Homo sapiens: one gene and its partner. The protein of the gene in region 1 purifies or fractionates together with the protein of each later gene. This does not show direct contact. Each region holds a gene or a part of one and is shown on either strand. Other genes may lie near its edges.

Region 1 (3,500 bases):
AGTTCACGACCAGCCTGGGCAACAAAGCAAGACCCCATCTCCATAAAAAATAAAAATAAGTTAGCTGGGCACAGTAGTGTGTGCCTGTAGTCCTAGCTACTCAGGAGACTGAGGTGGGAGGGTCACTTAAGCCCAGGAGTTCAAGGCTGCAGTCATGCCGCTGCACTCCAGCCTAGGTGATAGAGCAAGACCCTATCTCAAACAAAACGAAACCAAAACAAAACAAAACTCTCTTGGAAAGGTTTTCTCTCTGAAAGCAGTTCCCCTGTCCAGAAGATGCTTATGGCCCACGTATCTTCTTCCAACTGGTCAAGACAGTTAAATACTTCAAAATGCCCCAAGAGGTCCCAAAATTTAGTCAAGGCAAGTATCAATCAGGCTACATACTTTCTAGGTGTGACAAATATCAGAGTTTTGAGAAAGACATTAAAATCATCATGGAATCCTTGGAGGCCTGAGATACTAAAGCACCAATGCAGACAGTCTTATAGGAAGTCTGGAACCAATACTTCTTCCGTCAGTAACATAGGCCTTTCTAGACTTTGGTCTAGAAGAAGATGATTTTTTTGTGCTTCGAGTTAGGGATCTGTCCTTTTGACTTTAACCTTCTAACGGCTTCCCTCATATGTTTGGGTTGTAGTGGTGGCATTTCTCCCCACTTCTCACACACATCCAGTGCTAAACAGAGGGTAAGGAGAAAGTCTGATTATCACACAATAATTTACTAATCACATAATCCTTTTGAGTCCTGTAATTCTTGTTAACTTTTCTTAAGCTTGCTAAGGAAATAAACAGACATTTTTCCTTTTTAAGAGAATATTAGTATAACGTCTCATAACAGGCTTTATCATAGACAACAGTTTAAAATATATTTCCTATAGGCCATATGCTGTGGCTCATGCCTATAATCCCAGCAGTTAGGGAGGCCAAGGTGGGAGGATTGCTTGAGCCTAGGAGTTCGAGACCAACCTGGGCAACATGGCCAAACCTTGTCTCTACAAAAAATTAAAAAGTTAGCCAGGGGTGGTGGTGCGCACCTGTGGTCTCAACTACTCAGACTGAGGCAGGAGAATCACCCGAGCCCAGGAGCTAACTGTTACAGTGAGCTGTGATCGCATGATCAAGGCACTCCAGCCTGGGTGACAGAGTGAGACCCTGTCTCAAATAACTACATAAAAATAAAATTAAAAATTAGCCAGGTATGGTAGTGCACGCCTACAGTCCCAGCTACTTGGGAGGCTGAGGCAAGAGGATCCTTTGAGCCCAGGAGTTTGAGGTTGTAGTGAGCTATGATCACACCACTGTTACCATCTCATTTTGTATACCATCTTAATTTGTGATTTGTAAAAGGAAAAATAAAAAATATTAAAAAAAATAATAAAGATCATGCCACTGCACTCCAGCCTGGGTGACAGAGTGAGACCCTGTCTCAAAAAATAATAATAATTTAAAAGTATATATCTCCTGCTCAAAAAAAAAAAAAAAATTTCACCAGCTAGAGTAGCAATGGGAAACAGCCAGGCTTTTTACTCAATAAAGGGGTCAGGCAGTTCCTAGGGATCACAACATTAGGGACAACTCACCATCCCACACAGGTCACCCCTGTGATTGCTTTTCTTGTATCTTTACTTTTGGCAGCAGAAATGAGCAAAGTCCACTGCAGAAAATACAAAGTCTACTTCTTTCACCCTGGGCTGAGGAAAGGAATCAGGGAGGGGATTTCCCAGATGGTTCCTTACCATCTGTTATTGAAACTTGCAAGGAATAACAGTCATGTTCTCCTAAATAAAGGGCTCCCCACTTGGTCAACTTCAAGTGCAAATGAGAACTCCCATAGGTGCTTTAATAAGCTCCTTTGTGTAGATATTCTTAAAAATAAGACCACCACAGGTACAATCCAGTATTTGTAACCAACACTACTCACCTTCTTCTACCACCTCCCCGACGAAAACCTTGGAAATACCAGACATAGCAATAACAACATTCTGAGACACAGAGGTGCCAGTGATGGACTGGATCAGCTTGAAAGAAGCACAAAGACTCCGTGATCACAATAGTCAAAGACTGGCTTTGGAACACAGTACCAAGTAATTCACAGAAAAAGGTAAGATAACTGAAGTGCATTTTTTTTCCCACCTAAATAATCCCCTGACTTGTCTAACACCTCACTTCAAATGCCAATGGACATGGCTCTTGAGTTCAGTTCTAAAACGTGATGGAGATGAAGTGTGGTGGTCCATCCTTACCCTTTTGATGGCTGCCTTAGGGAAAGCTGAGCGGCGATACATTTCATAACGGTTCAGCTGCTCCTCAGAAAAAGAAGAAACCAGGATTCTAAACAAAGATCCAGGTAACTAAGTTAACTTATAAGAACGAATACTCAAGATATTATGAAGTCAATAAAAGTTTCAGACAATTCAAAAACGAATTCTTAAAGGGGTCAATGGCATTAGGCTTGGTGCCTTGAGGAATGAAGATAAAACACTTCTACTCCAAAGGAATTTGAGAAAACGTAAAACAAAAACTTCTTTTCTTACCTGTTAACAAAAAGAACAACACTGGGTCACTGTATCGTACTACACAGACTGTTTGCAGCATTAGACACTATCTCCATAACTCTATCTTATTGAATTTCACACTGATGGTAAAAATTTAATATACAAATTTATAATCAAACCAGTAGTTTTCAACATTAACAGATTTAGGGGAAATATCTGCAAAATATGTGGAAACAGTTAATACTCCTAATGTATAATTCTTTCAAATGAATAAAGGGGCCATGTCAATTTTTGAAAATGAACAAAGTACATGAACAGGAAATTTACCAAAATACCAATGGTCAATCAACATGGGGGAAACAACCTTCATTATTAACTAAGGAAATATTATTTTCATAGATAACATTTTTCATAAATCAGACCACTATTAAAAAAAGAATGGTATTAGAATATGGGACACAAACACATGCTGGCAGAGTGAACTGGAACACCTTTTTGGAGAGAAATTTGGAAATACATATGAAAAGCCTTTGAAAATGTTCATACTATTTGAATTAGCAATTACACCTCTAGGAGTTTATCTTAGGAAGTAATGGACAAGTATGCAAAGATATGTCCAAAGATCCTCATCATAATGTCAAAAGTAAAAATACCCAACCAGAAGCACTATAGGGATTGGTTAAATTATAGTTCAACAACATAATGGGATACAATGTAGCCATTAAAAATTATGATTTATGAGCATATTTACTGACATGAAAATATTTAGCTATACATATCAAACATCTAAAAAAACTTTGAAAAGGTACATACCCAAACATTATACCCAACTATATACTTAGAGTGAACTCTGCGTGGTGAGTTTATGGGTGATTTTTTTCTATTTTTCTGTATTCTCTGAATTATTTGCAATGAGCCCATACTACTTTTACAATCAGAAAATGTAATAAAGCTATTTCTATTTTTAAGAAAACTATGACCTAGATGTATAATTAGTGACAT
Region 2 (4,032 bases), on another chromosome or scaffold:
TTTTCTAACTTAGTTTATTTGAAAGAATGCCCTAGTTCAATCTTCTCTATGGCATTACCATATAGAATGGTTTATGTTGTTTTGCTCCAGGTAAATCTGTTGTGAAATAAATTACAATCTGTCTTCAGGGTCTGGCCACTCTGGCTCTTGCCACTTTAAACAGGTAGGTGTAAATACTAACATCAAATTTACTGGCTAAACTTGAAACAAAGGACAAACAAGAAAGCAGAATTCACAGGGAAAATGAAATTATTAAAAATGAAGGTAGGAAGTAAAAAAACCCTAAAATTTACCATCAAATTTTGTTGCATTATTTCTTTATTGAAATGATTTATAATGTATAACAAGTCAAACCTACAAAACAAAAATGCTGTCAAGATATTATCATGAGACAGCTTCCTGCTTCAGGACATTCCAGAAACCTAGAAGTTCTTTCTAAGAGCACCATACCCTAATGGAAAAGTCATCTGGGTTCTAGTCTGAGATCCATTACTTGACTGTTTTTTGTTTTGTTTTGTTTTTGTTTTTTTGAGATGACGAGTTTCGCTCGTCACCCAGGCTGTAGTGCTGTGGTGCGATCTTGGCTCACTGCAACCTCTGCCTCCCGGGTTCAAGCCATTCTCCTGCCTCAGCCTCCCAAGTAGCTGGGATTACAGGTGCCCACCACCACACCTGGCTAATTTTTGTATTTTTAGTAGAGACGGGGCTTTGCCATGTTGGGCAGGCTGGTCTCAAACTCCTGACCTCAGGTGATCCGCCCGCCTCGGCCTCCCAAAGTGCTGAGATTACAGGCATGAGCCGCTGCGCCCGGCCACTTAACTGTTACTGGATGAGTCAGCTCAGAATTTCTGGATTCTTAGTTTTCTCCCTACCTTTTTATCATAAAATTATTTTAAAATCCATAGCATATAATGACATGCTTTTAAAACTATGTAGCTATAAAGTATTATTTCACCCCAGGGACCTATATGCTATAGATGCTCAATAAAGATTAGCATTGATTCAAGAAACAACTATGACATATAAAGAGGATTTCAATTCTGTTCAGTGCTACCAAAAAGAGGCCTTTCCTTGGGGCAATTCCTCTATTCCAGTGGTTCTCAAACCTGGCTGCCCAGAACAATGTTTAAGAATCACTGCTTCTAAAAATGTTGTTTCATCTCTGAGATTAAATTCACGTACCCAAGAGAAATCCTGCAAGGCAGTTACATTTCCCCACTTGAAAATGAGATGCAGAGTGGGAAGGGATGAGAAAAGATTAGTGCCCAGGAAATGACCATCATTTATCTGCTCAAGAGTCTGACTACTCTCCAATTCTGGTCACGGATCAACCCCTTTCATTCTATGTCCAAAGCTGCCCTGTTGCCTCAGACGACAATCACTCAGATACCTCTTATTCTGATAAAACAAACAGGGCTGGAAAGGCTACCCAAGAAGCAGAATGAACCAAAACAGAGATTTAAAACACAGCGTCTAATGCAAAGCATTACAAAAGAGAACAAGGACATTCACCAAAAGAACAGCAAGCTCTGTTATCGTAGAAGATAGGGAAGAACTTTACTAAAAACGTTATGATTTTTAATTAATGCATCATGTAGTATCTCCCATGAGTTAACAATACTTTCATAGCCTTCTGGTAAAACTTACCTTTTCTTAAATAAAGAAGAACATTCTAAACACTAATCGACAAACAGCTAAAATTTCCTTCTTTCACCCAAGAACCTCCCAACCTACCAAGTTTAGCAAAAAAACACAACAATCAGACAAAACAAAGGACTATTCTGCAAATATTCTGGGCACTTAAAACATTACAATATAATAAACAACCACAAAAAGCTAGAGAAGTATTCTAGATTAAATGAGCCAGGTACAGTGGCTCATGCCTGTAATCCTAACATTTTGGGAGGTCTAAGTCGAGAGGAACAGTTGAGGCCAAGAGTTTGAGACCAGCTTGGGCAACACAGCAAGACCCTCTCTCTACAAAAAAATAAAAATAAAAACACATTATTGGGACAACTACAGAAATACTGTACCAATATTAATTTCCTGTGTGTGACAACAGGTATGTTGTGGTTATGTTTTACAAAAAAAACCTTTTAGGAGATATACACCATGCACTGTCATAATTTTTGCAACCACTCTCAGGTGGTTCAGTAAAGACTTACGTGTGTGTTTGCTGCTGGGCGTGGTGGCTCATTGCCTGTCTGTAATCCCAGTGCTTTGGGAGGCCAAGGCGGGTGGATCATTTAAGGCCAGGAGTTCAAGACTAGCCTGGCCAACATGGAGAAACTCCATCTCTAACAAAAATACAAAAATTAGAAAGGCGTGGTGGTGCACACCTGTAATTCCAGCTACTCAGGAGGGTAAGGCATGAGAAATGCTTGAACCTGGGAGGTGGAGGTTACAGTGAGCCGAGATCGTGCCACTGCACTCCAGCCTGGGCGACAGAGTAAGACTCTGTCTTTAAAAAAAGGACTTATATGTGTGTTTGTGGGTGTGAGTAGAAAGAGGAAAACAAAGCAAATGAGGTAAAAAAAAAAAAAAATTAATTGGTCAAACCCGTAAACAGTATATAGCCTTACTAGTTTTCTACTAGTCTTACCAGTTTTCTGAATGTTCAAAATTTTCAAAATAAGTAACTGGGGAAGAAACAAAATGTTACTCACTAGTTGCTTGACTTGAACTGCCTGTGGAATCCCAGCTGGTTGTGAAAGGACAGGGCCCGGCTGGGCAAGTTTGATTTGAACTGGAGTCCCAATAACAGGCTTGTCAGATGTGGTCCCAGCAGAAGAAACAACAGGTTTCACAGATGGAAGACAAATAGCTGCACCTGAAGTTTCTCCAAAAGTTACTGCTGGAAGGGACAGTGTTACTGCTGTTCCAGAGACAACTGGCTTTTCAGGTTGCAGTGAGACCGTGGTCACTGTGTTTGCCACAGATGTCACAAGTGGTTTTGAAGTCTGAAGCAAACCAGTTCCAGCTGTTGTTCCTCCTGTTGCAGCAGTTGGGCCCACAGAATGAAGTGTCACAACTCCAGCTTTTGCTCCCACTGGACCAGCAAGTGGGTTCAAAGTTTGCACTGACACAGTTCTGGGTGCTGTTGCTCCAGAAACAATAATTGACTTTTCAGACTGGCTTGAGGACACTGTAGTTGTCACCACAGGAGAAGTTGTTACTGTTGTAGTACAGGTAGCAATGACCATGTCACTAGAAGTCTGCTGAACACATTGCTGGATGAAGCTCTGGGAGTTAGGCAGAAGTTGTCGTAAGGCAACCACGCTTTTCTGGAAATGCAGAGGAATGGAAAAAAACACTGCTAACAAATCAGCTACTTGTGAAACAAAATGTGGTATTTCATACCTTTACAACTTAAAACCAATCAAAAGTGTATCAAGTATTTCAGTTGAAGACAGCTTGTATCACTTACTTATATCCTGCCAATATCCAGGATACAATCAATTTAAAGCCCAAGTGCCTGTTTTCCAATATGAAATTACTATATCTCAGTATTAAACTTATTTGTATTCCCTCAATATCAATTTGGTAAACACTGTATTATACTTTTCTATAATCATCTAAACCCTATAATAGATCATTAGTAACTTCAGTATCTATAAGTTTATTTAAACCACAGCAGAATCTAGGTCTCTTCATTAAGTAACTTTCAAACTTTGGATAGAAATAGGTGCAGTGGCTCATGCCTGTAATCCCAGCACTCTGGGAGGCCAAAGTAAGCAATCACTTGAGGCCAGGAGTTTGAGACCAGCCTAGGCAACATGGCAAAACCCCATCTATACAAAAAATACAAAAATTAGTCAGGCGTGGTGGCACACACGTGTAGTCCCAGCTACTCGGGAGGCAGAGGTTGCAGTGAGCTGAGATCATGCCACTGCATTCTAGCCTGGGTGACAGAGCAAGACCCCATCTCCAAAAAAAAAAAAAACAAAAAAAAAAAGGAAAGGAAGAAATAGTCTTTAAAAGCCTAGGCAACATGGTAAAACCTCGTCTCTACAAAAAACACAAAAATTAAAT

What was found.
Region 2: the proteins of TAF11 (region 1) and TAF4B purify together in Homo sapiens (affinity purification with western blotting, with the first as the bait; one study listed by BioGRID). This does not show direct contact.

What each region holds. Positions count from the first base shown.
Region 1 is NC_000006.12:34,878,043-34,881,542, forward strand, and holds part of TAF11 (transcription initiation factor TFIID subunit 11), read right to left. Parts: intron 2,335-3,500; coding exon 2,247-2,334; intron 2,022-2,246; coding exon 1,925-2,021; intron 679-1,924; coding exon 548-678; 3' UTR 1-547. UniProt on the Homo sapiens protein: The TFIID basal transcription factor complex plays a major role in the initiation of RNA polymerase II (Pol II)-dependent transcription.
Region 2 is NC_000018.10:26,285,134-26,289,165, reverse strand, and holds part of TAF4B (transcription initiation factor TFIID subunit 4B), read right to left. Parts: intron 3,285-4,032; coding exon 2,667-3,284; intron 1-2,666. UniProt on the Homo sapiens protein: Cell type-specific subunit of the general transcription factor TFIID that may function as a gene-selective coactivator in certain cells.